4 linked regions of the Homo sapiens genome follow. Changing the gene in region 3 together with the main gene of any one other region gives a genetic interaction. Each region holds a gene or a part of one and is shown on either strand. Other genes may lie near its edges. The genes, in order: KIF14, FASN, NSMCE1 and PTTG1.

Evidence for each region.
Region 1: changes in NSMCE1 (region 3) and KIF14 together harm fitness more than expected from each alone (negative genetic interaction), as found in Homo sapiens cells (one large-scale study listed by BioGRID).
Region 2: changes in NSMCE1 (region 3) and FASN together harm fitness more than expected from each alone (negative genetic interaction), as found in Homo sapiens cells (one large-scale study listed by BioGRID).
Region 4: changes in NSMCE1 (region 3) and PTTG1 together harm fitness more than expected from each alone (negative genetic interaction), as found in Homo sapiens cells (one large-scale study listed by BioGRID).

What each region holds. Positions count from the first base shown.
Region 1 is NC_000001.11:200,549,120-200,556,943, forward strand, and holds the end of KIF14 (kinesin-like protein KIF14), read right to left. Parts: intron 6,336-7,824; coding exon 6,261-6,335; intron 5,488-6,260; coding exon 5,349-5,487; intron 4,649-5,348; coding exon 4,269-4,648; 3' UTR 2,381-4,268; downstream 1-2,380. UniProt on the Homo sapiens protein: Microtubule motor protein that binds to microtubules with high affinity through each tubulin heterodimer and has an ATPase activity. Plays a role in many processes like cell division, cytokinesis and also in cell proliferation and apoptosis.
Region 2 is NC_000017.11:82,085,893-82,093,464, forward strand, and holds part of FASN (fatty acid synthase), read right to left. Parts: intron 7,528-7,572; coding exon 7,327-7,527; intron 7,128-7,326; coding exon 7,005-7,127; intron 6,921-7,004; coding exon 6,805-6,920; intron 6,698-6,804; coding exon 6,563-6,697; intron 5,793-6,562; coding exon 5,330-5,792; intron 5,178-5,329; coding exon 4,990-5,177; intron 4,673-4,989; coding exon 4,483-4,672; intron 4,249-4,482; exon of another isoform or gene 4,068-4,248; intron 3,835-4,067; coding exon 3,740-3,834; intron 3,493-3,739; coding exon 3,358-3,492; intron 3,281-3,357; coding exon 3,077-3,280; intron 2,985-3,076; coding exon 2,869-2,984; intron 2,671-2,868; coding exon 2,498-2,670; intron 2,416-2,497; coding exon 2,224-2,415; intron 2,143-2,223; coding exon 2,062-2,142; intron 1,970-2,061; coding exon 1,793-1,969; intron 1,613-1,792; coding exon 1,433-1,612; intron 1,362-1,432; coding exon 1,158-1,361; intron 667-1,157; coding exon 362-666; intron 1-361. UniProt on the Homo sapiens protein: Fatty acid synthetase is a multifunctional enzyme that catalyzes the de novo biosynthesis of long-chain saturated fatty acids starting from acetyl-CoA and malonyl-CoA in the presence of NADPH.
Region 3 is NC_000016.10:27,225,349-27,232,559, forward strand, and holds part of NSMCE1 (non-structural maintenance of chromosomes element 1 homolog), read right to left. Parts: intron 1,489-7,211; coding exon 1,372-1,488; intron 499-1,371; coding exon 378-498; intron 1-377. UniProt on the Homo sapiens protein: RING-type zinc finger-containing E3 ubiquitin ligase that assembles with melanoma antigen protein (MAGE) to catalyze the direct transfer of ubiquitin from E2 ubiquitin-conjugating enzyme to a specific substrate.
Region 4 is NC_000005.10:160,424,631-160,430,895, forward strand, and holds the end of PTTG1 (securin), read left to right. Parts: intron 1-3,084; coding exon 3,085-3,243; intron 3,244-3,971; coding exon 3,972-4,051; 3' UTR 4,052-4,109; downstream 4,110-6,265. UniProt on the Homo sapiens protein: Regulatory protein, which plays a central role in chromosome stability, in the p53/TP53 pathway, and DNA repair. Probably acts by blocking the action of key proteins.

The sequences.
Region 1 (7,824 bases), on a different chromosome or scaffold from region 3:
GATATCCATTTTCCAAATTTCAGAGATTCTCCATCTTCTTAGTGGACAGCACAATCTGCTCTTCGTGAAAATGAGGCCCCCTAATGGGCAGATGCTCGCTCTTTAGACAAATTCAGAGGTTTTCACTGAATATTAGCCAGAGAAACGAAAGCCTGTGACTTACCACAAAATCGCTCTTAAATTCTTTTTTTTTTTTTTTTTTTGAGATGGAGTTTCACTCTTGTCGCCCAGGCTGGAGTGCAATGTGGCCATCTCAGCTCACTGCAACCTCCGCCTCCCGGGTTCAAGCGATTCTCTTGCCTACGCCTCCTGAGTAGCTGGGATTACAGGCGCGTGCCACCACGCTTGGTTAATTTTTGTATTTTTAGTAGAGACGGGGTTTCACCTTGTTGGTCAGGCTTGTCTCGAATTTCTGACCTCAGGTGATCCACCCACCCCCGGCCTCCTAAAGCGCTGGGATTACAGGCGTGAGCCACCGTGCTCGGCTAAATTCTTTAAAAAACCTATGATTCTCTGAGTTTAGGACCATTCAGCAACAGGAAATATGCAGTTTCCAGTTGCCATTTGCTTAATCAAAAGTTTACCCCTGAATTCTGTCTTGAATAAGTCAGCGATTCTCTGGTGGTTCTCCTGTATGTTCGAGTGTAGTGTGTGTTTTTTGTTTGGTTTTTTGTTTGTTTGACAGTCTCCCTTGGTCTCCCAGGCTGGAGTGCAGTGGCGCAATCTTGGCTCACTGCAACCTCTGCCTCCCAGGTTCAAGCAATTCTCATGCCTCAGCCTCCCGAATAGCTGGGATTATAGGCATGCACTGCCATGCCTGTTTATTATTGTTTTTTTTAGACAGAGTCTCGCTCTATCACCCAGGCTGGAGTACAGTGGCGTGATCTAGGCTCACTGCAACCTCTACCTCCTGGGTTCAAGCCATTCTCCTGCCTCAGCCTCCTGTGTAGCTAGGATTACAGGCGTGCCATGCGCCACCATGCCGGCTAACTTTTGTGTTTTTAATAGTGTTGGGGTTTCACCACGTTGGCCGGGCTGGTCTCAAATTCCTGGCCTCAAGTGATTCACCCTCCTCAGCCTCCCAAAGTGTTGGGATTACAGGCATAAGCCACTGCACCCGACTTGAGTTTAGTGTGTTTAGAGGTCTTTGGCATCGAGAAAATATAATGTTATGAACAACTGGGATCCAACAAGTTGGGCCTTTCAAAAGTCCATGAGGCAATCTAATCTTTTTCAGGTTGCTATGGCTTAACACCAACAGCATACCTAGCATTAAGTAAATAATTATTAGAATGAATGAATGAACCTAGCTATCAGATACTAAAACAAACTAAATGGCCATGCTCCACATCTAAAAATCCCATAAACTAATATTGGCTAAAGGAAGAAAGATGGAAAAGCTCAGTCTTGATTATATCATGCAATGACTGTAACTTGCAAAATCCAGAGCACAAACTTACCTGATGAATCATGCACAGGAAGCTGGGCACATAAGCTTTTTTTTAACTGAACCAAACTACTGATACCTTTTCCCCTCACCTGTGATTAATTCTTACTTTCCATATTTAGGGAAAACCTTGAAATGCTTATTGGCACATAGTTAGGCTCTGTAAACTCAAGTATGCTAGTTAGCTAACTAGACAAAACAGCCTTTTGCTAAAACTTTCAGATGGACTGACTCCATGGAGGACACATAGCACATTATACCTTAAGAGCAGTAAGATAATGTTTAGTTATCTTTATTGTCCATTTATTATCATGGAACAAAATGACGGCAGATATATTTTCAGGTATGCCATAAAGGACTGCAATACAATTTGGCACATTGGCAGAATGTTATAAATGGCATATGCCTGCACCAAGTGTGATCTTATATACATAACAAGGGTTTTGTAGCTGGTAATGAAAAGGACAGAAAATAAATTCACTAACAGTCTACTACTTGCCAGCAGTTATTCCCACATTTTTCTCACTAAGTGCTCATAGATAGATAGTCCATGAGGTGGGTATTACTTTTCTTTCTGCAGATGAAGGAATGGGAGTGAAGACAGTAACATGTCTAAGGTCATGTAGTTACTAAGCAGTCCAGCTGGGATTCACACTCCAAACGTGTGAAAAATATGTCAAACTCCAAAGCTCATGCTCTTTACACATACCACATGGTGATAAATCTATTCCAGGCATAATCAACTAAAGAGAGGCAGAACAATGTTAAAAAAAAATAGTTGTTATGGCAATATTAATATTTGTTTAGTGTTTCCTAATTATTAACTTGATTTGCAACACTAGCCTAGCTATTATCAAGGCAGAGCTATTCTGAATGAAGAGTAAAATAAACAAAGAAAATCAGTAAAATAAAAAAGCATAGACCACGAAGCAATTCTAATGCTGAAAAGATTTATTAAAGGCATTCTCTTTATAACATTTCTTGTCAGTGCACATAATTCCAATAGCAAATATTTTTTCACCATTCATTCAAATACAGTATCACAATGTGTTTAGTATAAATATGTATACAAAATTTTATAAAGACACTAAAAAGTTTCTGACCAATTAAGTCATGAGTTTACAAAGCACAAACTGAAGATTAAATACTGAATATTAAGATGAAAACTACTATACAGGTACTTTAGGAAGTTCTTCAAAGAAGTGCACCTCCCGGGAAATCCTCATATGTACATCTACACTCCAGCAAACTGCACAGGCAAAGTGCTACTTGCCAGATTATTGACTAATAAAAACACATATAGAGCTTCAGAAAGAATACAAGGTCAAATGCCAAAAATAAAAAAAGAAATGAAAGCAAATGTGCTACATTGTACCATTTTAAAGAGCTTGAAAACACCACACAAGGTTCACTAATACTGTTCTGACTGCAATGACTGTATTTACTTACAATCTCTTCCTAACAAGGAAACTATCAGATTTATTCATGGTACGAATGGCCAATTTCAACTAGTTATGCCAAATGTACAAGTAGTATCTGTAAATTCGAAAAGGGCAAATGAAAGGATCAGGTTATTTAAATGAATTCTTCTTTTTTTTTCTTCTTTTTTTTTAAATGAATTATTCTTTAGGAACTGCTCAATATCACCCAAGCATAGTTACAAAGTATCTCTTCAAATTATACATACTCTTGAGGTCAAAAACGTCAAACTATTTCCGTAATGTAAGATCCCACAAGTAGAATATTATCTTTATTACTTGATCATAAATAAAGGTTTTTTTTTAAAGCTGTGGAAAATAAGGGTCTTTAATCTTCATCAAATCATATACAAATTATTTCATTATACCTTTAACAAAACAAGCATTATCAAGAGAAGGTCCAGCCTCTGATCTCCTAATCTCATCCAACAGTTTAGTATAATTCTGGCAACATTTTATTAGTTTTAAATAATATTCATACAGCCCCCATTATGAAACACAGATAACAGGGTAAACTACTGTGCCAGCAAGCCATATTATTAATATATAATTATACTATATTTAGGTAGCTACTTATAATTTGGAAAGAAACAGGAAGCTACACCCTTGAACATACTATTCAAAATGGCAACCAGTTAACCCTTTGAGAAAAGAATTTTTGATTAACAATGCAAGTTAAGTTGTCTTAGTTAAACTTGTACAGGCCATTTCACCATAAACATCCCAGCTGTCTGAGGAGAGAGAAGGCATAGGCACAAAGGTAACTGATTGTTCAGGTTTCCACTCATGAGAAAATAACCCTTTATAAACGACTAATGAACCAACTACAGACAGTATACCAATGTTAAACACTTTAAAGATAAAAATATATTTTATTTATTTATTTATTTATTTATTTATTTATTTATTTATTTATTTTGACTAAGTCTCGTTCTGTTGCTCAGACTGGAGTAAAGTGGCATGATCTTGGCTCACTGCAACCTCTGCCTCTCAGGTTCAAGCGATCCTCCTGCCTCAGCCCCCCTAGTAGCTGGGATTACAGGCACGCGCCACCATGCCCAGCAAATTTTTGTATTTTTAGTAGAGACGGGGTTTCGCCATGTTGGCCAGGCCGGTCTCAAACTCCTGACCTTGTGATCTGCCCGCCTCCCAAAGTGCTGGGATTACAGGCGTGAGCCACTGTGTCTGGCCTTTGATAAATAGATATTTTAAAGATAAAAAGACATGGACTTTTTTGAAATATCTGTGCTGATTTCTCTTAAACTCTCCTGCATAAAGAAAATTACCGAGCAAGTGTTCTTTTTCTTTCATGGGTGGTCATAAAAGTGCCTACACATCAGTATTCACACCCACTGAATCCTACTGGGTGTGCATTCCTCTGAGCTCACTGCTGGGGATGAGCCATGGAGCTCATAGACACGCTTTGGTACACCTTTATTCTTACTGCCGTCAATCCCGCTTGATTTAGATTGTTGGTGTTCTTCTTTGGTATTTTGATTATAAGTTTCCCAGGGTTTCAACAAATCAGGGCTTTCTTCAGATTCAAAACAAAAGAGGAGAGACTTAGCTAGAGATTCTAGTTCCTGGTGGACAATGTGAGTTACTCTACTCTCATAGCTGCCAACAGAAGTAGAAGGCACACTGAAGTCACTGTAAAAATCACTGGCCAAGTTGCGAATACTTTCAACACAAGTCTGGAGAAGATTTATATCACTATGGCATCCTATATGCAAGAGAGGAGGGAAAAGTTAATTAGCCTTTTCAGTTTTCATCAGGTATTTATGACTTTTATAGACTCTAGATATCTTTTAAGTCAAAGTGACCCTATCAAAACAATTCCAAACTACTTAAGATTAGTCAACTAAAGTGTTTATTTGCTAGATGAGCACTTGGTTTTTCAGGATCTAATTATTTAGGTAGAAGTACTGATACATACATTAAGTGGGAATTTAATTATAAATACAAGTTCCTATATGGGTAACTAATATCAGTGAAGTAGCATTGGGTAGGCTTCAGTTAATGACTAAAATAATGAAAAGGTTAGAAATAAAAAGGAAAGATGTCAGCCGGGGACTGTGGCTCATGCCTGTAATCCCAGCACTTTGGGAGGCCAAGGTGGGTGAATTGTTTGAGGTCAGGAGTTCGAGACCAGCCTGGCCAACATGGTGAAACCCCATCTCTACTAAAAATACAAAAATTATCCAGGCATGGTGGCATATGCCTGTAATCCCAGCTACTTGGGAGGCTGAGGCAGGAGAATCGCTTGAACCCAGGAGTCGGAGGTTGCAGTGAGCTGAAATCGAGCCACTGCACTCCAGCCTGAGTGACAGAGCGAGACTCCATCTCAAAAAAAAAAAGGAAAGATGTCTAAGGTTCCTTAAAATATAAAATTCTGATTATAAACTCCATTTGGAGAATCATACCTTTCAGTGCAGAAATAATAATTTCAATAGCTTTCTCTAAGCAATGTTTTAACTTTAAGAATTCTGGAGCACGATTAACCATCCTCTTGAAATCTTGGTATTCAAAGTTTTCTTCTTGTACTTGCCTTCTGAAACTTTTCTGTATAAATAAAGTTAATATTTAAAATAATACATTAACAGGCTCAATGGCAGTAAGGCTCAGTCAATATGATTTTAATTGCCAGAATCTTCTCTTTAAGAAAGAGAGTTTAATTTCCTCACCAGTGCTTAACTCTATTTCTATAAGCAAGACCAAAATACAATAGTAATTACTGTTTTCAAAAGAAATCAGAATTTTCAATTAATTTTCAAAGTCTGTCATCCTATTACATGAGAATGGAATAAAGTAACAGTGCCATTTATTATTCAATACTTTAAAAGATACATTTATTTCATTTTTAAGAGCTCAACTTTATAATAGTTCTCATTTATTTAAATAAAAATTTTCAAGCCATAGCAATTACTCTCCTTTTTAACACATTGATCATATACTTAATTTTTCTCTTTACCTGTGACATGGGAATAATCTATCTAATTCAACTGTATTTTAAAATCTTTGAGCACAATGATTATTAAACACAATTTTTTAGCCTATAATGACCCATCCAAGCAAAAGCTGACAGTTATTAAACCAGTAGCAATAAGAAACAGACATATTAATAAATTTCTATACAATCCTTTATCCACTACTAGAACTAGTAAGTTATGACACACATAAAAAAGACAAAGAGCTATCTTACATGCTACAATTAGACATATACAAAAGAGTTGTCTCTGGCTAAGGATAAACACTGAAATAAAAATATCTACATTTGAACCAAGTGAAATGATAAAAAATAAGCAAAATTAAAATCAATTTAAAGCTTCTCTTACAATTTTCGATTCAGCAAAGATGTTTTCAAGAGATCTAATCAATCCCATGGCATTAGTTTTCATTTCTTTGGTAACCTATAGAGAATGTTAAAATATTTTATTATACTTTATTATTCAGAAGTACAAAAATCATAGAATTGCATGGGACCAGACTTTTAAAAAATTCTAGTCTAGAAGCCCAAAGATTGGAGCTCTATTTCTGGGATTGCAATTAAATAGCTTGAGAGTACTTAAATCATACATGTGAAATTTCTTCAAAAATAAATTGCACATTGACTTCTTTCCAAATAAGTTTATTTCACTTTTAAGAGTTCAACTTTATAATCTCTCTCATTTATTTTATTTACATAAAAAATTTCAAGCTATAGCAATTACTCTCCTTTTAAACACATTGATCATATACTTAGTCTGTATTTTCTATTTACCTGTGACATGGGAAAATAATCAGTCTAATTCACCTGTATTCATTAATAATTTCTTTCAAAATAAATTGCACATTGATTTCTATATTAAATATGGACACCCTCTAATATTTGTTATAACAAATTTTGTGTTATACTTAAATATTTATAGATACAAAATTTCTAAATTTCCCTTGGAAGGGGGTAAGTAACATATCAAGCAAATACTATACTCTAAAAACTTTACAAATGTTTTGTTATTTGATTCTCCATTATAGTCCTATGCTGCCCATTGTATACCTCATTTTATAGGTAAGGAAACAGACCTTGGTTCCTAACTCCTAAGACTGAGAACTAGAGTGGGAGCCCACATCTAAATTCTAAGCCTTTGCTTTTATTCTATCCAATGCTGCCCCCTAAGGTGCTTTCCTGCTCAATTTCTGCCAGGGGATTCTTTTTCAGTGTTTAATTGGCTTTACTCACAGAGAGCTTCCCTAGCCCTAATTCAGATTTGCTCTATGTGGTTTAAAAAAAAACAAAATTCCAAAAGAATATCCAAATTATTTTTCCTTCCTGACTCCAGCTTTAAAATTGTAGCTCCATGCCTTTTATGTTTCAGCTCATTTTCTATTTCTTTGGATATTTTATTCTTCTATAGGTTCTTAAAGGAGTTTTAACTTACAAGAATAGATAAACTAAAACCCTACCATGAACAACAAAGTACAGGTTTGTCATACTATAGAAAGAAAATGAGAGAAAGGAGGGTATGCAGATAGGGTCAATTGTATACAGGATGGGCCTGGCCCTTTTGCTGCTTATTTCCTCAAAACAATACCAAGGCTAACACCTGCACCTACTTCAACAGCTTACTAAACACATTCCCACATATTATTTCATCTATATTTTTCATTAATTTATTCTATACCCTTCTGCACTTATTGCCAGCAGAAATTCTTTGCAATAGTGATAGACTGCAAAAGTGGTATCACTTTGCAAATATGGTGAAGTGTTTTAGTGATAAATGGTGCTGCTGCTGAGCAAAACCAAATTTGAGACGTCAGTGGTGGTCTGAATGAGCCTTTGACAGCCCAATATATCCCTTTCTTCAAAGTTGCACTATGGAACTGAAATCAGCCTCATGCCTATTTGAGCGCAAGCTTGAT
Region 2 (7,572 bases), on a different chromosome or scaffold from region 3:
ATCAGCCCCACACCAGGCAGGTGCCCCTGACCTGGGGCTGGGCAAAATGTCCATGAGGCCTCAGTCTGGCAGAAAGGCTTCCCCGTCAACCTGATGACGGTGCCAGCCATGGGCACGCATGGATGCCACTGGTCTTGTCCCTGGGGTCCTGCCTAGGCTGCACCTCTTGGAGCCCACGGGCGGACCCTCCACGGTGGCTGTGTGGACCGCACAGGACACGTGCACAGAACCACACAGGGAACTGGCCGGCCCCACCCACCGCCCAGGGCCCGCCCCGTGTCTGTGCTGTCTCCTGCAACTGATGTCAGGGTGGGTCCTACCATGTCCGGGGCAGAGGCCTGGCTGCCCAGGAGGCACCCACCTCCACCACCTTCATCTTCAGGCTGGGCATGTTCTCCACGGCAGTGTCCAGGCAGGCCTTGAGTGCCGGGGAGTCCAGGAGGCCGCTGAGCAGAGGGTCCTCTGGCAGCTTGGGCCTCTCCTGGGCCAGCACCTGCGCCAGCTCCAGCTGCAGGTTCCCGTTGAGCTGAAGCCTGCAGGCAGCCGACAACAGCCGGGGCAGTTCCTGCTGTGAGGGGTCCCGGGGGATCTGGGCCCCATCCAGTCCGGGCACCACCATCTTCAGCCCCTGCTGGGTCACCTTGGTCTGCAGTGCCTGCACCAGCCCTGGGGAGGGAGGGAGGCAGGCCTGGTGTTCCCAAAGCCCCAGGGCATCTGCCTGGCATGGGCTCTCAGACCCACTCTGTCCTTCTGGGGCCACCACCCCGCTCTGCCCACAGGATGAGAAATAGCTGAGGGTTGAGGAAGGGGCTGCCCACCACTGGGAGGCTGACTCCTGCCCACTGTGGACGCAGTGAGGGGCCGCATTCAGCTGCAGGGGCTACTCTGTGCCTAGCCAAGGTGTGACCTTAGGCTGAATCTGTCATCTTTGCCCCCAAGTACCCTTTCAAGACTGAGGAACAGTGACCAGGGACGAGGAAGGCTGGGGGCTGGGGGAGGGAGGGAGGCCGCCATCGTGAGCTCCGGCCGGAGGGTTGGGCTAGGGTTGCTGACCCCAAAGGGGGCCCCGTGGAGAAGCAAGTCTGGGGTCAACGTGAGGGGAGGCGATCGCTCCTCATCGCCAGAGGTGTCCGAAGCCAGCAGGGCTGGGACCTCACCCTTGCACAGTTGCAGCTCCTCCTGCAGGGCAGCGCGCTCAGACAGGCACCCCTCCTCCGTGTGGGGAGTGAAGCAAAACTTCTCCAGGATGGGCACCTGCTGCTCCTGCTGCCGCCGCGGGGCCGACTCAGTGTGGAGCCCGGAGATGTGGACGCCTCCGGCCACTGTGACCCTCAGCCACCTGCTCACCACCACGTCAGCCACTGTGGGGACAGGCTGGGTGAGTGCGGCATACTTGGGTGGGGGCACTGGGCTGGGGCTGGGGCGGGGCTACCTTGGGCCTTGTCCTGCAGTGTGTACAGCTTCTGCCTGTGGGTGGCAGGGTCGATGTGGATGGCGGTGACACGGGTGGGCAGGTACAGGCCGTGCTTGGCCGAGCCCAGGATGGACATCTGCAGCATGGTGTCCATGAAGCTCACCCAGTTATCCTTCCACAGCAGCCTCCCCGAGTCACCTGCACACAGGGCCTGGTTGGTGCTGTGGAACTCCCAGGTCCCTGGGGCCACCTCCCAGAGCCCACCGGGCCCCTCTGCTCCCTCCCAAGCTGCATGCCTAGCTGTGGGTGCCCTCTGTGGTCCCCACAATGACGACCGCCCTCCCCGGTGGCTTGGGCAGCAGTGTAGTCAGTACCCACCTTCCAGGCTGGCCTCCAGGATGCCCTGGAAATGAGGGCCGTAGTCGTAGCCACGCAGACGCAGCTCCTTGTAAACTTCAGCCTGGGCCAGGAAGAGGGGCTCCGTGGGGTTGGGGGTGGGGCTTTCCGGGTGGTCGAAGAGCCTGGGGTCAGGGTCATCCCACTGGTACACCTTCCCTGTGGAAAGGGAGGTGCGGAAGGGCCTGAGGACGGGCGGCATGGCCAGCGGGCACAGCCTCCGCAGCTCCCGTGCCACCGGCCCTGCTTACCACTCACTACCAGGTTGCCGTTCTCTGACACCTCGAAGGCACGGGAGGCCTCCAGGAGCCGTACCTCCAGGGACACTGTCCCTGCAGAGCGGGAGAGTTGGAGATCAGAGGGCAGCACCCGCCCCCCAGCTACCCCCGCCTTGGTCCTGGGGTACCCCTCACCAGTCTTGGGCAGGATGGTGGCCTGGTGCAGCACCACATCCTCAAACACCACAGGCAGCTGCTCGACGCCCAGGCCCAGGGCGCGGGCCAGCGTCTTCCACACTATGCTCAGGTAGCCAGTGGCGGGGAAGAGGACGCGACCGTCGAGGGTGTGGTCCACCAGGTAGTGGTCAGGAGACTCGGAGCTGGTGTCTGCGGGAGGGCACAGGCCTCAGCACAGAGCGGGCGTCTGTGGGGAGGGAAGAGTCTGCCCACCCGCCGGGCCCCTGCTCACCGATGTTGTAGATGGCGGCTGAGGGGGAACCTGAACCGTTGGGGAAGTCCTCGGCGGCCGGCACGTCCCAGGCCAGGCTGTGGTCCCACTTGATGAGTGGGGAGATGAGGGGAGTTCCTCGGGGAGCTGGGAACTCCACAGGTGGGAACAAGGCATTGGGGTTGGCGTCGATGCTACGGAGAAGGGAGGCATGGGTAGCACACCCGTCACCGGGGTCCAGGGGCTCTGGGTTCAGCCCACCCACTGCCTGCGGTGGACCATCCAGGGCTGCTGCCACCGGCCTGGGTCAGTGAGGGGCCCGCAGCCCCGCTCACCCACCCCACGCCGTCCCCGACTCCGGGAGACGAGACCCGGGCTGGGAAGGGACCCACCCTGAGAGGTGCAGCCTGCCGATGCCGGCCAGGAAGAACTCCAGGTTGTCCCTGTGATCCTTCTTCATCAGGGGGATGATGGTGCAGCTCGGCTTCAGGCCACGCTTCAGGACAGCCTGGGGGCGGCAGGGCAGGTGGGCTCTCTTGGTGCTCAGCTGAGGCGCCCATCCCAGGCTCCCGGCGCCTGCTGCCCCCAGGCTGGGCCTACCTGCAGCAGGGCGTGGGGCGCGATCTCCAGCACCACCGCGTGCTCAGGCACGTGCCACAGGGCCTCCTGGAACAGCACAGGGCTCACCAGGTTGTTGACATTGTACTCGGCGGAGGACGTGCGTGCCAGGCTGCTGTGCCACTGGGCCTCGGGGATAGAGGTGCTGAGCCAGCGGGCTGAACGTGGCTTCGGCTCCCGGATCACCTGCATGAGGGGCCAGGTCAGTGCTGGGTTGTGGGTCCCCTGGCCCGCCCCGCACCCCCCAGGCCGTATTAGTCCACCTTCTTGAGCTCCTGCAGCAGTGGGGGTGCGATGGCCTCCATGAAGTAGGAGTGGAAGGCCATACCGCCGGTCCGCACCTCCTTGGCAAACACACCCTCCTTCCTCAGCTGCTCCACGAACTCAAACACCGGGGCCTGGACATCGTGGGAGCCTGGATAAGCATCCTGGCTGGGCACCCACCTCAGGCTCGGAGAGGTAGGGCGCACCCACCTCACCCCAAGGGAACCGAGAGGGAATGGGCAAGGGACCTGAGGACAAACCTGCCCCATGCCCCAGGCCCGTCAGAGCTTGGTGGGGCGTAGACCGTGGCCGCGTGTCCCTGCCAGACTTGCAATGGCAGGCGCAGGGGACAGAGGAGCCCGCCCAGGCCGCAGCACCCACCTGAGGTCCCGAGATGGTGACTGTGTCCTTGGAGTTGTGGCAGGCGGGCACCACGCCCGGGGGGCAGCGCTGTTTACACTCCTCCCAGGACAAGCCTATGGCAGAGCCAGCCTCAGAGGCTTAGCGTGGACACCGAGCCGCTCCCAGCCACCCACCCACCCAGACACTGCCTGCAGCTGGGGGCAGTAATGACAAGTGTGGTAATGGCAGCCTTGGAGCCTTCATGAGAAAGGTTCGCCCCCTGCTGTGTTTGACCCGTGGGTGGAGGTGTCATTACAGAGCTGCCACTCCAGGGGCAGCTCCTGGGAGCCCAGTCCCCAGATGGTGGCCCCCTCAGTCCTCTGCAGCCAAGGTTCTTTCCAGGTCCTGCCCACATGTGGCCCATGGGGCTCAGAGATGGGTGCCAACAGAGGGCACCAGTCTGAGGGAACCCTGATGACCCGTGTGTTGGCTTCACCAGAGCCCCTGGGTTCTTGCTATGCTGCAGCTGTGTGCTCATCACACGGGGGCTCCACGCAGGCCTGATGCCCATGGACACGTGCCTAGGCCCAAGGCTGCCAGGTGTGGGGCCAGTGGGGCAGCTGCAGGGGACTCGCGCACGGCTGTGTCCGAGCTGGGTGTCCCCGGGCCAGCGGGGGCCACTCTATCCTACGGGGGCCAGGCCAGGGCTGCAGGTGAGGACCCCACAGCGAGAAGGCAGCCTCCTTTCTTGGAGGTGCTGGGGGCCCCTCCGGGAGACCTACCCACGGCTGCCATGGCGCCCGGCGGGAGATGGGCTTCTTTGATGCACTGTCCCCTCCAGTAGGCAGCGAGGACGGCCTCCTCCTGGGACAGGCAGCCGTCGGCGTAGCCACAGGCCACCTCCCCCAGGGAGTGGCCGACGATGCCATCTGGCCTCAGCCCCATGCAGCTCAGCAGGTCTATGAGGCCTATCTGGGGTGGGAACAGGACACTCAGGTTGCAACCTCCAGCAGGTGCAGCTGTTGGGGGCGGCCCCCGGCCCCACTAGGCCATCTCCACCCCCGCGCCCCATCGACCCTCCCAGGTCTCCTGATAGGAAAGAAGCCCCTATGGCCCCCACACAGCCCCACTGAGACCCCTCCTCCCCTCCCGTCCTGCCCCCAGCACAAGGCTCTGCCTAGCAAAGGGGCTGTCAGGGGCCCCGGACTCAACACTGCAGCTCCTGGGCTCCAGGGAAAGCCAGAGCCCTGGGGCTGGCGTTGCTCACACGCTGGCAGGCTGGGCCCTACCTGGATGGCAGTCAGGCTCACAAACGAATGGACGATGTCATCAAAGGTGCTCTCGTCTGTGCTCAGCAGCAGCTGTGACACCTTCAGGCCGAATGGCTTCACAGCCTCATCGGAGCGTAGGATGGAATCTCGGAAGCGGTCCAGGCGCATGAGGCTCAGCCCCATCCCGCGCCACTGTGTGCCCATCCCTGTCCCAGAGAGCACGTCACGAGGCTCAGCCCCATCCCGTGCCACTGTGTGCCCATCCCCGTCCCAGAGAGCACCTCAGGGGACCACCAGCTCCAGTTCGCCTGCCTTTCCCCAGGGAAGGGACCACCTTGGGGGCAGAGTGTGGGCTCACCAGAGCAGATGAACCAGAGCGGGCGCTCGCCAGCGGGCACCTGCTGCACCTCTGGGCCACCGCGCTCACCACCCAGCACAGCGTAGCCACGGAAGGGCATGGCGGTGGCGGGGACAGCCGCGATGTCGTTCAGCATGCTCAGGAAAGCCAGGTCCTGGCTGTGCCGGAGGCCCTGCTCCAGCAGCTTCTGCACGGCCTCAGGGGTGCGTCCGCTGGCCCGCAGCAGACGGGGCAGGGTGGCATGTGGGGCGGGTGCGGGGGGCGGCTGCGTGTTGGGCCTCAGGATGATGTGCACGTTGGAGCCCCCGAAGCCAAAGGAGTTGATGCCCACGTTGCCGCCACGGACGGGCAGGGGCTGGTCCACCACCTGCAGCCGCCCATCCAACAGCGCTGGGATCTCAGGGTTGGGGCTATGGAAGTGCAGGTTGGGGGCCCAGAGCCCGTGCTCCAGGGACAGCAGCACCTGCGGGGGTACGTGGTGGATGGGCAGCCGCCCCACTCCCTCTACCACTGCCTGAGCTGGGGGCAGGCACCTCCCCGAGACTCTCATGTGGGGCCAGGGTTCCAGGGCCCTCTCCGATGCACTTCCTGTCCCCAACCTAATTCTGCCATGGCACAGGGGTCCGAGGACTGAGCCGCCATGGCCCTGCCCTCAGCTTGGTCCAAGACCTCCCCTTCCGGCCTTGCTGCCTCCCAGCCTGATGTGGACCCACCAAAGCCTGGCTGTGGCCTGAACACTAAGGCCCCCTTGGCCCAGATGTTGCATCTCAGAGGCTGCAGAAGTTGGGGGGCAGAGGGCGTGAGTGATCATGGGTGTTGGGGCTCCTGTGCCTGGTCTCTCTAAAGGTCCCCAGGCCTCTGCTAGTGGGTCAGGAAGCTGTAGGGACGGGTGGGCGACACGGGAGACCCTGATGGTGCCGTGGACCCCCCCAGGCCTGCTCCTGCCTCGCTCTTCCCACCCAAGCGGCTCCTCCAGCTCGGCTCCGTGTCCGGCAGACGCTCTGCAGGGCATCAGGCCTCCAGGGAAGGCCCAGCGAGCCTGGCTACGAGCTCTCCCTGCTGTCAGCCTCAGTGCCTCTGCTCAGACCTGCAGCATAGCCCGGGGGACAGAGGCTCCTGGTGGGGAAGCCCCCGCCTCCACTTGGCAAAGAGAAAGCAGCAGTGCCCAGCCATGGCGCAACCCAGTCCCAGGGAGCAGGAGCCTGAGGGACCCCCAAGCCCAGCCCCACCTACCTTGGCCAGGGCTGCCAGCCCCGAGGCTGGCTCCGGGTGCCCCATGTTGGACTTGGTGGAGCCGATGAGCAGCGGCTCCTGGCGGGTGGCGCACAGGGCTCGGGTGATGCCATTCAGCTCCTGGGGGTCGCCCACCTGTGGGAAACATGGGGGGTGAGGGGCTCTGGCCAGGTCACCTCTCCAGGCATGGGCGTAGGTTAGGCTCATGGGGTGGTGAGTGGGGCGGGGGGGGGGGGCATCACCTTGGTGCCTGTGCCGTGGGCTTCGATGTATTCAAATGACTCAGGGGCCACTCCGGCCGACTGGTACAACGAGCGGATGAGCTGCTCCTGGATATCCCCTGAGGGGAAGGTCACGCCTGCGGAGGGCTCGGCTCAGTGCTGCAGCCCCAGCCCCGGCTCCCACCTGCCCCCCAGCACCCCGGAACCCCGGCAGAGCCCACCTTGCTCCTTGAAGCCATCTGTATTGGTGCCGGCGTTCAGGATGGTGGCGTACACCCGCCGGGCCAGGGACTTCTTGGTCAGCAGGACGGCCACCACACCCTCCGAGCGGCAGTACCCATTCCCTGGGTAGAGCAGCACCTCAGGCCCGGGGCTCAGCCCCACGCCGGCCCCCACCCCACCAGGAGGAGCTCTGGGGTGTGGGGTGGGTGCTTGGGTGGGGGATCCCCGGAGCTGGCAGGATCCTGCTCAGCGTGGGGACTGTGCGGGGGGCCGTCCTGTGCCACTGTCCCGCCTGCCCTGGCCGCGCAGCCGCACACTCACCCGCTGTGTCGAAGGCCTTGCAGGTGCCCTCGGGGCTGAGCATCCCCAGCCTCAAGAACTGCACGGAGGTGTTGGGCTTCAGCAGGACATTGATGCCCCCCACGATGGCGGCAGGGCACTGCCCGCTGTGGATGGCCTGGTAGGCGTTCTGCAGGGCCATCAGGCTGGAGGAGCAGGCTGTGTCCAGTGCGATGCTGGGCCCTGCAAGGAAGGGTGCTGCGGCTCAGGTGGGGCTGTGAGCACACG
Region 3 (7,211 bases):
ACCATCCTTCACTGCTAACCCTCCCCAGCCCGTGAGGAAGGCAGAGTTAGCCCCAGTTCAGAGAGGAACAAACTGAGGGAGCTGTGGACATAGCTTTCACGTCCCCCTCCTGAGAGGGCTGCCAGAGAGAGAGCCTTGTCTAGACAAAATGCTCATACACGTTGGAATTTCAGCTGGGTTCTAGAAAGTCCTCTGGAGCGGTGCACGTAGCTCAGCCTTTACTTCCTGCAGTGGCTTCTTCTAGGATTCAAGCTGCTAACACGGACCCCCACACACCCTGGAGCCCTTCAGGGCCCTGTCTCCAAGGGCTTCCCTGGCACCAGGCCCCACGTCCTGCTGGCCCAGCCCCTCCCATGAGCTCCTCAGGGCCCACGCACTTGGGATCTCGTGGGGCCAGTAGTCGTTGCAGTGGGGGCAGCGCGGTTCAGCATTCGACTGGAAGTACTTGGCCACGCAGGGTAAGTGCATCCTGATCCCACAGGTTTCGCAGCTTTGACCCTGAAACAGGAAAGGCCAATGACGGCGGAGCTGGTGCACACCTCCATGTTCTGCAAACCTCCGGGGAAGCCACAAGGGAAATGGGCAGCAGGTGGCATCGTGTTATCTTCTGGGCCCCAGATTAATATTGAAAATAATCCCAAACGCCTTAGTGCAGTGGAGTCTTTTGTTTGCTTGCTGCTTGTTGCGGTGGGTTTTACTAAACAATTCTGAACACATGAACGCAGTGACAGAAGCCGAGGGCTCCCAAACTCCTGCACTCAGATCCTGCAGGTGGCGTGTGGACAGCCACAGCTTTTCAGAAGCTTATTTGCTAATGTGAATCAAAAGCTTTCAAAAAAAAAGTGCACTTTGTCCCAGAAACTCCGCCCAAGGAAATAATCACCAGGTGCCCAAGGATACAGGTGTACGAGGCCCGTAAGAGCAATTGCAATTACAAACAGCTACAGCTGCAAAACGATAGAAACTGAAAGACACATCAATGTCCACGCTGGTTCAGCGGTTGCAAAGCCCTGCAAACCAGTGTTAAGACCACTCCAGAAAGCAGCAATCGACAAGAGACACTCACTACAAAACTACCAAGATGATGCAGGTTGCACAGAACACTCAGCCTTCCTGAGAAAAATAAAGTAAGCGAGGGCCCTTGGACCCCAACAGCAGAACCAGGGAGGAGGGCGGCAGTGCGTCCCTGCGGGGCACAGCAGGGAGGCGTCCTGACACGTCCTGGGAGATGGCCTCCGCCAGCTCTTGTGGGAGGATGCGCCAGCAGTGCAGGAGGGCTGGGCCCAGAGCCAGGATTCCGGGAAGTACCTGTACAGAGCCCCGGGAGCCGAGGGCCCAGTGATGAGCTCCCGTGCCCTGCCCTGCGGGTACCTGGATGAGGAGGCTGTGACAGATATTGCAGATCTTCACCGCGTCGGGGTACGTCTCCCGGATGTATTGCTCCATCTCCAGGATGGCCCGGCCGTGCAGGGTGAACTCCCCTTCCTTCTGCAGGGACACACAGGAGGTGGCCACCCTCAGCCAGGCCCTCTCCCCATTCACCACCTCTCTTCCCTCTGTGATCCCACAGCCCAGTGCTCAGGAAGACACAAGGGTCTACGCAGCTTTTCACCAACCCCAGCCAACGGGCATCAGCCACATCCCCCTGGCAGAGCCTCGGCAAGGGAAACTGAGGCAAAGACCCTAAAGACATGGAGGCGTGGCTCCCTGACACCCGCCTTTTCTCAGCATCTGCTGTGCCTTCAGACGTGACTTCTCTGTCTGCACGGCAGCCTCGAGGGAGGCAGTCACAGCCCTCCTGCAGATGAGGACGCTGAGGCCCACAAGGGGGTCAGTCTCCCCAGGGTGCAAACCCAAACACCCACTGCTGCCATCCGCCACCCATCCCACTCCCAAAAAGCAGCATCCCTGGTGCCTCCCAGCACTTCTGCCTCCCAGCACTTCTGCCTCCAACTGCAGTAGGGACCCTCAGAGATCACTTCCAGCCACATCACTTTACAGATGGAGCTGGAAGGAGTCTGGAGAGGGCAGACAGGCCCCATCACACTGTGGGCAGTGGAGCCTCCAGTGGAAGCCAGGCCTCCTGGTTCCCATGCCAGGGTGCGGTCCACCCATCATGCATCCTGAAATCCCTGGGAGAGCCCGGAAGCACAAGAACAATGCAGCTCCCCAGGCCGACCCTACTGCCAGGTCACAGGAGAAAGGCAGCACTGAGGGAGACCCAAGGCAGGCAAATGACACGGGACCCAGGACATGGACCCATGCAGGCTGATTCCAGTTTCTCCACAGTCAGCTCATGCATCGGATATGAACCACACCAGGAGATGACGTCACTGACGCCTGCAAGTCACCCGAGTGCTCAACTGCCTTTTCTGTTATTTTCTAATTTTTAATTTTTACAAGCAAGAGCTGTCACTCCCGTTTCTTTTCTTTTCTTTTTTTTTTTTTTTTTTTGAGATGGAGTTTTGCTCTTGTTGCCCAGGGTGGAATGCAATGGCACAATCTTGGCTCAATGCAACTTCCGCATCCCGGGTTCAAGCAATTCTCCTGCCTCAGCCTCCTGAGTAGCTGGGATTACAGGCATGCGCCACCACGCCTGGCTAATTTTGTATTTTTAGTAGAGACAGGGTTTCACCATGTTAGCCAGGCTGGTCTTGAACTCCCGACCTCAGGTGATCCGCCCACCTCGGCCTTCCAAAGTGCTGGGATTGCAGGCGTGAGTCACCGCACCCAGCCCACTCCCGTTTCTGACAGGTAGAGCCCCCCACCCCATTCCCACCTTCATCCCCACAGTGCAATGTGGAGGGGTGTGCTTGCGTAATCTGGGCTCACAGTGCGTTCGCTCTGGAACACCAGTAGAGGAGCTGGGTGAGCACAGGAAGGAAGGCAGGGCAGAAGCGTGGGGTTGGGGCATGGACAGCCGCTGCGGGAACAGTGGAGGGAGGCCGGGGCACCAGGTGCTTGTGCCCTGCACCGCAGCTGTTGCTGGTGCACAGGGGCTTTGTGTCATCCAAGTGCTGTGGGCAATGGGAGGATGTGACCAGCCCCCAGGCTGTCCTCGGTCCTCAGTCCTATGGCTGTTACCTTCCCCCAAAGCTCCCAAATCCATCATGGCACCCCACCTCCCTGGCCACCGCCCTCTTCCAGCCTCCCCTCCAGATCCATCACGGCACCCCACCTCCTTGGCCCCCACCCTCTTCCACCCTCCCCTCCAGATCCATCACAGCACCCCACATCCCCAGCCACCACCCTCTTCCACCCTCCCCTCCAGATCCATCATGGTACCCCACCTCTCCAGCCCCCACCCTCTTCCACCCTCCCCTCCAGATCCATCACAGCACCCCACATCCCCAGCCACCACCCTCTTCCACCCTCCCCTCCAGATCCATCATGGTACTCCACCTCTCCAGCCCTCACCCTCTTCCACCCTCCCCTCCAGATCCATCATGGCACCCCACACCCCCAACCACCGCCCTCTTCCGCCCTCCCCTCCAGATGCATCATGGTACCCCACATCCCCGGCCACCGCCCTCTTCCACCCTCCCCTACAGATCCATCATGGCAACCCACCTCCCCGGCCTCCACCCTCTTCCACCCTCCCCTGCTCCTGCTGCTCTCTGAGCCCACTCTCCTCCAGCAACGCACTCGCTACCGAACAAGCCTGGCCCTGTCACTCCCAACTCACCCCCACCCCAGGGCTTCCCACCACCCTTAGGTCCAAGAGCCAAGCCCCTAATACGCGTATCTCCCGGGCTGCCCTCCGTCTGCTCGCCTCGCAATCTTTGTGCTCAGATGGCCCTGGCCTTAGCTTCTTGAGTGCACCTGCTGGCCACAGGGCCACTGCCGGGCTGATGATCCTCCCACCCCAGGCTCCAGGCAACTCCCACACAGCCTTCAGCTCAAGTGTCACTTCCTCAGCAGCTGAGGGCCGGTTCCTCTGGGACAGCTGTCATAAAGCCATGTTTCCTTTCCATCTGTACCAGGACTGCAGTGAGATGACCGTCTCACTGATCTCGGGCTCCCCCTCCAGACCATGGCCCCATGGGAGCGGCCACCAGCTCTGGCTGTGCTCACTCCTGTGTCCGCAGCACCTGCTGTGGGGCCCAGCACTTGGCAGGCCTGTGATAAACACCCACGGGAAGATGAAGTAGACCTTGCACTGATCCCAAAGGAATGCCTGACACTAAGCAAGTTCAAGCTCAGACTGAGGCAGGAGCTGCATTTATTTTTTATTTATTTATTTGAGACAGAGTTTCGCTCTTGTTGCCCAGGCTAGATCATGCAATGGCACGATCTCAGCTCACTGCAACCTCTGCTTCCAGGGTTCAAGCGATTCTTCTGCCTCAGCTTCCCGAGTACCTGGGATTACAGATGCCCGCCACCACACCCAGCTAACTTTTTTATATTTTTAGTAGAGACAGGGTTTCACCATATCGGCCAGGCTGGTCTCAAACTCCTGACTTCAAGTGATCTACCCGCCTTGGCCTCCCAAAATGCTGGAATTACAGGTTTGAGCCACTGCACCCAGCCAAGCTGCATTTACTGAACACCTGCTATGTGCCTGAAACTGCACCCAAGGCTCACCATTCATGACCCACTCAGTCCTCTGAGGGCCCATCAGGGGAGGGGCAGGAGGGATGCCCTAGCCCTCAAAGACGACGACAGCCCAGGTGATCTCCCAGGCGCCTCGCCACAACACTTGGAAGTCAGGACCTCGTGTAGGGAGCAGTCCTGGGGTGTATGGAGGTGCGCCGATCAGCAGACGCCCAGCTCCCATGAGCCGCGCTTGCTCTCAGAGGCCTCCCCGCTGACCCCAACCACCTACCACCCCTGGGCCTTCTCCTGGACGGACAGCTGCCTCAGCACCTCCATGCCGGGCCAGTCTCACACAGGACTGGCTGTCCAGGAGTGACGTGTCCTTGGGGTGATATACCCACCTGGAAGGGCCTTGTCAGTGGGCCCCTGGCTATTTCTGTGGGAAGCCCTGTGTCTGAGAGGCCAAGGATCAGACACTGACATGTGGTCTCTCTGATCGAGGTGCTGCCCTAGGAAGACCTGTCCTGGGTAAGTGAGCACCCGCCCCGGTTCTCAGTGATTCCTCCAGAGTGCCGCAGACCTCAAGGCAACCCTTACCAGGCCATGTAGGTCAGAGAGCACTGGACCCTCACAGAAAACACCTGGAGCTGGCAATGTCCCCATCCTGCAGATGAGGAAACAGTCTCCGCAACGAGAAGCTGCTCACCACAGGCAGCGGAGGAACCTGGAGGAGTCTCACCACACAGCCCCTGCCACATTAGCTTCGTTCCTTCGTCCTCCTGAGGGCCCCAGCAGGCCAGGCAGTCAACAAGAAGCCTCTCTAGGGCTACTGCCCAGCGCCAGTGCTGAGGGCCCCCTGCTACTTCTGCAGCGCTCCTGCAGGTGGCAGCTCCCGGATCCTCTGTCCACCCTCCCTCGAGCTCAGAGGCGCCCTGCAGAAGGTGGTGCCAGCACTGCCACCGAACTGAGAAAGGCACAGAGTACAAGCGCCTGCAGCCACAGCTCACCGCCACAGACTCCAGGGCGGGGCCTCTCCTATCCACCACCGCCCTCTCCAGACACCAAGGGCAGACAAAGGGCAAGTCAAACCATAAAGCTGGGGGCACGCCCTGCAAGCCATGCACAATGGTGGCAGCATGTGCTAGGCATGGTGCTCTTGGGTGCAAAGCAGGGTGCAAAGTGTTGTGTACTGGGATGTTGGGGCACTCGGCTCTAGGGTCTGGGATAACAGGTGACTTCAGTGGGTTTCTTTATGCATCTCAACATGTTCTAATCCTCCTGTAATGAGCAGATATTTCCTGTAACATTTTTTGTAAGTTTTAAATGCTGTTCCTCTGCAACCTCATCCACCTGTCCAGTCATCCATTCAGCAAGCATTTATTGAGCAGTTGAGGTGCCAGGCACTACATTCTGCAATGGGGACCAGCCATGAAGAGGTCATAACCCCTACCCTTAAAAAACTTGGCCTGTGGCCGGGCACGCTGGCTCACGCCTGTCATCCCAGCACTTTGGGAGGCTGAGGCAGGCGGATCACCTGAGGTCAGGAGTTCGAGACCAGCCTGGTCAACATGGAGGAACCCCGTCTCTACTAAAAATAGAAAAATTAGCCGGGTGTGATGGCGCATGCTTGTGATTCCAGCTACTTGGGAGGCTGAGGCAGGAGAATCGCTTGAATCCGGGAGGTTGAGGTTGCGGTGAGCCAAGATTGCACCATTGCACTCCAGCCTGGGCAACAAGAGCAAAACTCCATCTTAAAAAAAAAAAAAAAATTGGCCTGAAGAGGGGCTGCACCACAAGCGAGAATGGTCAGTTATAACCTGAGTAGCCCTAGAACATTCCCTAGTGCCAAATACAGCCTGGAGGGCAAGAACAACTGTGACAAAGCCATTGATGGGAGCTGCAGTCCCCAAACCGGGGCCTGAACTCGGCCCTGCCACTCTCAGGGTGTCCGACGTCATCCAGACCCCTGAGCTGTCAGCTAAAAACTAAGCTATGGAGCCACTGCAGGGCAGCAGACAGCCTCCAAGACATGACATACGGGAACGCGCCCAGCAGATCCTGCACTCACCAGGAGCTCCCAGCCCTGCCCTCACCCCATGACCTCTCCACCCTGTCTTCCCATCAGGTACCCCAGGAACTGAATTCGGGTCAGGTTCCTGGGACAGGCCCACCCTAAATAGAAATCAGTAACTCAGAACACAGACTTCCCCAACCCAGACGCGAGCCTTCCTGAAAAGGAAGCGGAGAATCGCTGCAGCCACAAGCAGCAGCCTCTGGCCACGAGTCCGACCACCAAGTGAGGAAGCGGGGACCCGGCGTGAGTGCGTCCTCAACACACATGGGCACAAGCACCTGGGAGGCACAGCTGTGGTCAACTCGGCAAACACTGAGCTGTTGAAAACAGGGGTGCCTTTTGTGGAAAAAGAACTGAAACATTTGTTCTGCTCCATTCAGCAGGACTAGACGTGGGGGTGGGGGCAACATCTAGAAACTGGAGCTGCAGTGGGGCCTGTCCCAGATGTCACAGCTCCTTTCCTGAAGCAGGTCTATGCCTCTTCTAAGCACTGGCCCTGAGGAACTCACTGCTGACAAAAACAACAGTGGTAATGTCACCAATTCCTCTGCCGCCTCCCCCGCGAGCCAGCCAGCCTAGCACCGAGCACATTACTGTGAGG
Region 4 (6,265 bases), on a different chromosome or scaffold from region 3:
TCACAAGGCTTTTAGAAGTGAGCTTTATGTCAAGTTGAGCAATGCCTGAGAGTAATTTGGTAGGATTATTTCTTTGGTTTGAAAAATCTACATAAGACAGTGAAGACATGTTTTTCAAATTTCTTCAACCTGCTACATGTATCTGAAGTATTTTCTGTTTTGGAAACAGCTTTTCAAGCTTTAATTTACTCAACCATTTCAGGAGAAGCTACTGTGTGTCAGGCATCCTTAGGTCCTGGACACACTGTTTAACAAGATGGGCCCTGCCTATGGGAGCCCATAATTTGAAGGGAAAGTCAGATGCTGGACAAGTCATCTCACTGTGAGTGAGCCAGAAAAAACAGCATTGTAGGTCAAAGTGGTGCAAAGATCGTGAGGTAGGAAAAGAGACTAAAGTGGTTCTAGGAAAAATACAGGCAGGGTAAAGGAGGATACAGGTGAGGTGTGGGATCAGATCAGGGAGGGCCTTACGGATTTCTGAGCTGGATCTTTTACCCTTTTATTTAGCCAAAGAGGTCATGTAGTTATTTTACTAATTTGCATTCAGATTGTTCTGGCTTTTAGAAACTACAAACATTTCTATGATTAGTATTCTTGAAATGATCTTGTTGTAAGTTTGTGAGTACATCTGGAGGGAAACTTTGAGAAGGATTGCTGAGTTCAAGGGCTTGTGTGATTAAGTTTTAAAATTATAAAATGTGGTGCATCCGTGCTAATAATTACCATTCAGCCATTGAGGAAAATGAGGTAGATTTATGCATATTGATGAAGAATGAAGACCACAATATCCTGTGTTACAGGAAAGAGATATTGCTAAGTGGCCCTTCAAAATAGTGTAAATTGTTAAATCCGTCTACAGTGGATGAAGATGTCTGCTTCCTCCAGGTTCACTATCAATGTTTTAAAACTCTAATCTTTATCAGAAAAGAAATATTTCATTGTTTTAAATTTGTTGTGTGTATGGTGAACATATTTGATTATTGGCCACTTACAGTTTTTCTTTTTTTATTAACTTCCGGTTTGTGTTTTTCTTTGATTAAAGAGCTCTTTGTAGATAAAATTAGCTCCCCTTATATTGCAAACTTCTTTCCTCTGGAGTCTTCTGTCTATGGTTTCCTTTACAATTCAGTGGTTTTAAGTTAAATAGTCACATATCATTCAATTCCTTTTTGACTTCTGGGTTTTACCAGGCTTGTAAAAGAGCAGACTAATTCTTGAGTACTTAGGCTTTAGAGAACTTTCACACCTACGGACAAAGATAAGGAAAACCATGATTTTCTAATCTTTTGAGAAAACAGCTCCTTGAAGAAAATTCAGTGTTAAATCCTACTTTTGTTACTGTACAGAAAAATCACTTTTTAAAAATAATTGCTAAGAAGTAAGGTACTTGGATTTTAAGAATGAATGTTACCTAACACAATGGTTCTCCATTTTTTTTTGTTTTGTTTTAAAGACCCTTTTACACTCTTAGAAATTATTGAAGACCACTTTTGCTTGTGTGATCTGCTCTTTTCTGTATTAGAAATTAAGACTGAGAAACTTAAGATATTTATTCACTAAGTAATCACATTACATTAATGTAAATTTTTTTTTAACATAAAATATTTTTTGTTCTGGAAAAGTTTGGAGAAGAATGGCATGGTTTATATTTTTGAAAATTTGCTTTATTTGGCTTAATACAAGACAACTGGATTCTTATCAAATTCTATATTCACTCTTACATCTGTTAAAATATACGAAGAAAACCTGGCTTCACACAGATACGTTTTTAATAGTCTTTTCAGATAAGTGTGGATAGGTTTTTTTGCCACTACACTAAAACCCACAAGTGGCTGTTTCTGAATATAAAATTGCAATGTGGAATCTGAAACCGTATCAATGAGCATTTTGTATCTTGACAGTAAAATCCATTGGTCTATTTTGCACTTGGAATGTATCTTATATTCTTGCATCTATCTTGCATTGACCATTCAGAAATACTGGTTCACTGAGATATGTAGATACCCACATGTTGAGATGCTTTATTATACAATATCAAAAGCACATTAATACCACAACTGATCTCATCAGAAAAGTCTAAGCACCTGTCAAGCTAATGACTGCAGATAAGTTTTCCAAAATTCCTTTTTTTGGCCAGATGCAGTGGCTCACGCCTGTAATCCCAGCACTTTGGGAGGCAAGGCGGGCGGATCACCTGAGGTCACGAGTTCAAGACCAGCCTGGCCAACATGGTGAAACCCCGTCTGTACTAAAAATACAAAAATTATCCGGGTGTGGTGGGCGCACCTGTAATCCCAGCTGCTTGGGAGACTGAGGCAGGAGAATCGCTTGAACCCAGGAGGCAGAGGTTGCAGTGAACGGAGATTGTGCCACTGCACTGCAGCCTAGGTGAAAGAGTGAGACTCTGTCTCAAAAAAAAAATATTCATTTTTTAATTTTTGACAAAATTTTAACGTTTTATATTCTGCCATTGGCAACAAAGGCTGTCAGTTTTCCTTGAGGTGATAGACTTCTTTCATTCCTTTAAGAAAAAGTGTGACAAGCACCCAGGTCTGAGTGACCATGGGATTTCTTGCAGTTGTTAATTCAAGTAAAAACAGTATTCCAGGAAAATGTTCTCTAGTTTTAGCTTGCAACTCATATAGTTGCACAAATCCTTTTAATCGTATTTTGGTGTACAGTGGAAGTGCTTTATGGCATACTTCTCATTTTATCACACAGAACATTAAAAAGACATCTCAAGGATGGAGAGCTAATAAAATTAATACTTTCTACTGCATATGGTGAAGTGACAGTAAGTGAAACTGGCATTTTTAAACTACAAGCGAAGAAGGATGCAGAACAGAGAGACTGCTAATATGGTTTACTGTCACTGCCTTGATTTGTGTTGAGGCACCAGCAGCTTTCTCCACCGCTGCCTTGGTACCATCATTACAAATGTCAACCCAGTGGAAAAAGGTGTGAATATTGTCTTGAAAATAGTTTTGACCTCATGGACCCCCTCAAAGGGTCTCAGACCACAAGGGATCTACAGCCCACACTAAGAACTGCTGCCCTGACAAAAACGCTTTCTCTCTGTAACAGACTTTGAGAGTTTTGACCTGCCTGAAGAGCACCAGATTGCGCACCTCCCCTTGAGTGGAGTGCCTCTCATGATCCTTGACGAGGAGAGAGAGCTTGAAAAGCTGTTTCAGCTGGGCCCCCCTTCACCTGTGAAGATGCCCTCTCCACCATGGGAATCCAGTAAGTGAGCAAGTGCCCTTCTGGAAGGGCTGCAAACAATTTGTTTCATAACACTTCCATTACCATGGGAAGAGTTGTGCGGGAGGTGAGCCTGTGAGTAATTTCTGTCCTTCAAATGACAAGGATTAGTTTTCAGAAAAATAAACTATTCTCGATTAATATTGCTTTTCAGTCCCAAATGCCCCAGTAAAATTGTTATTCTGGAAACTGGATAGTCTTACTACAGCCAAAAGATTAATTCTCACTTACATCTTCTTAGGCTATAAGTTGAAGCATATATAATAAACTTGCTTGGAATGATGATTCCATGTTATATCCAAAGCTAATATAAGATCAAAACACCTGTGCTGTAGCATAGACTGACAATAACTTCTTACTGCAGAAGGTCTGAGGTCTTCGTTTGAACTGGTAGTCAAAGCCAACATTATGTTTTCTGTTTGTTCTGATGTGGGATAATTTGTCCTAATAAGTTACATTAGTGAGACTGTTAACTCTTACTTTGGTCTCTAAGAACAATAGAGATTCAGATACTTCTAAAACTTACTTCCTAATGAAAGTCAATTCTGGGGCCACAGACACATTCCAAAAAATGTGTCAGGAGGGGATGCAGGTGATTGATTTGACAAAGGGAAAAACATGAATTTTTGATTGACAGCTAATGTCTATGTTGATATGGACAATGACTCAAGGATTTGCAGAAATTTTAATAAGAGATTCCTGTTTTCTAGATCTGTTGCAGTCTCCTTCAAGCATTCTGTCGACCCTGGATGTTGAATTGCCACCTGTTTGCTGTGACATAGATATTTAAATTTCTTAGTGCTTCAGAGTTTGTGTGTATTTGTATTAATAAAGCATTCTTTAACAGATTCTTCCTAGTATTGTGGTTGCTTTTCCATGGAGGTTACTTAAAATAACATGAAAGCTAGCTGAGGTGTTTAACAAAGAGTCTATAATGTGACAATAGAGATTTGTCTGATGTCTAAAAACTTAAATCTTTTTGGTTTAACAGCTTATTTTAGAAGCTGCCACTGTTTTTTCCTGAAAAGTATACCCCTCAATGTGTACTTTATTGACTTTTTGTGGCCATTAACTAGTGACAGTTATTAGATCTCTTAATTAGAAGAGCTACTTCCAACTCATTAAGTATCTATTGCTGGGCATTCTTTATTGCCGGTTCTACTTAGTTTCTAATGACTTTAATACTCAGTATTGAAAGGCTCTAAATCTGAGAATTCAGCCTCCTTGGGATCTTCAATTAGATTCCTTAAAGATCACTGGAGATAATTTACTGATAGTAAGGTCTACACTCCACCTATAGGAAACTGTATTTAGTTGTTTACCTTGTGTTGGACATGAGTATTTGAGAAGCATTATTATGTTTAATGTTTGACACTTTCCCAGGTAAGACAATGAAGCGCAGAAGTTCATTGATTTGTCAAAGATGTGAAGAGCTAGAAAATTATTAGAGCTGGTATTTTGATCTCAGTTCTGAGGTTGGAATCAAAATAGAGATGGCAAATGGTTGCTCATAGGTTTTCTTTTTGAGGGAGGGGGTGGATATTTTAAAAACCTTAATCATTTCCACTATTTAAAATTCCAGTGTTTCACCAATCTGGCTTTGGAGATTCTCTTGAAAAGAGATGTGTCCATAGTAGACCCTGTTTCCAACACTTGCTGGGGCTGGAGGTAGATTGCAGGCTGCTGCCTTTTAGGTGGAGTATAGGCTTTCTATCCCACAGACCCTGCCTTAAATGGCCTCAGTGAGAACTGAAGTGATCCTTTTACCTTTCATGTCTCTTCTGAGACCTAGCCTACTTAACTCACTTTACTCGCTTGGGCCATGTAGTAACCTGAATTTGACCCTTGCTTGATGCTAAGTTATATAAGAAGTCTTTCCCTTGATATATCAGTAGCTTCTATGGTCAAGTTAGAATGTGAACACTTTGCCATTGTCATTGGAGGAAGCTGAAGGATATTAGGCATGAAATACTAAGAACACCTACAACCGCTTATCCTGACTTTAAAACTTTTTACCTTCTAAATACAACTGAATCAGTGTGACTTTCTGGAATTAGTGGAAAGGCAGACTTCTAGGAGAAGATAATACCATAAGACTACTAGGGCACTTGGCTTTAGGGGAGAGTAATAGGTTTAGCATCCTCAGGTAAAATAGGGCTGCTAAGAAAACCAAAGTATAGGTTGGACACAGTGGCTCACACCAGTAATCCCAGCACTTGAGAGTTTGAGGTGGGAGGACTGCTTGATCCCAGGAGCTTGGGTTCAACCTGGGCCATGTAGTGAGACCCTTGTCTCTCAAAAATTAAAAATAATTAGCCGGGTGTGGTGGCGCATGCCTGTAGTCCTAGTTTCAGGAGGTTGAGGCAGGAGGATTGCTTGAGCCCAGGAGTTCAAGCTTACAACTTGAGTGGCTATAGTCATGCCACTGGGTGGTAAAGTGGGTGGTAGAGTAGCCTGGGTGGTAGAGTGAGATGCTGTCTCACAAAAACAACAAAAAAAGCAAAGTGTAGTTCTGAATGGCTTTCATACTCTGCAACACAAACTGAAGCTTTGGAAAATTGTCTTTTGTGGTAGAGGGAACCAAGGGCTGGGAGCAAGGGGACTAGTCAGTCCCTTACCAGTTAATTGCCGTCCTCTGGGTCAGAACTGAGTATAGAGGGATCTGATCTTTTCATCTGCTGTTAATCAGATTGCAATGTGCATAATGTGTGCTGAGACTGAGAACTTTAAGCAGATGCTCCTCCATTAATACAGATAATTTGCATCTTGTGGGGGTTGTTGCTATTTTGTTCTGACACTTTTTGAAATAAGACAGACTTTATTCATACCTTTACAACTCTGTAAACCTTCTGCATTTCTCTACACTACCTCTGAGCCTGCCTCTCAGGATACTGTACCTTCTTATAGTAGGAGCTAACAGTCAGGAATGCCATTATCTTGCTACCATTTCTTCTTTCTTATTACAAGTTGTATTTTTCTACTTTCCATGCCAGCCATGGATTTT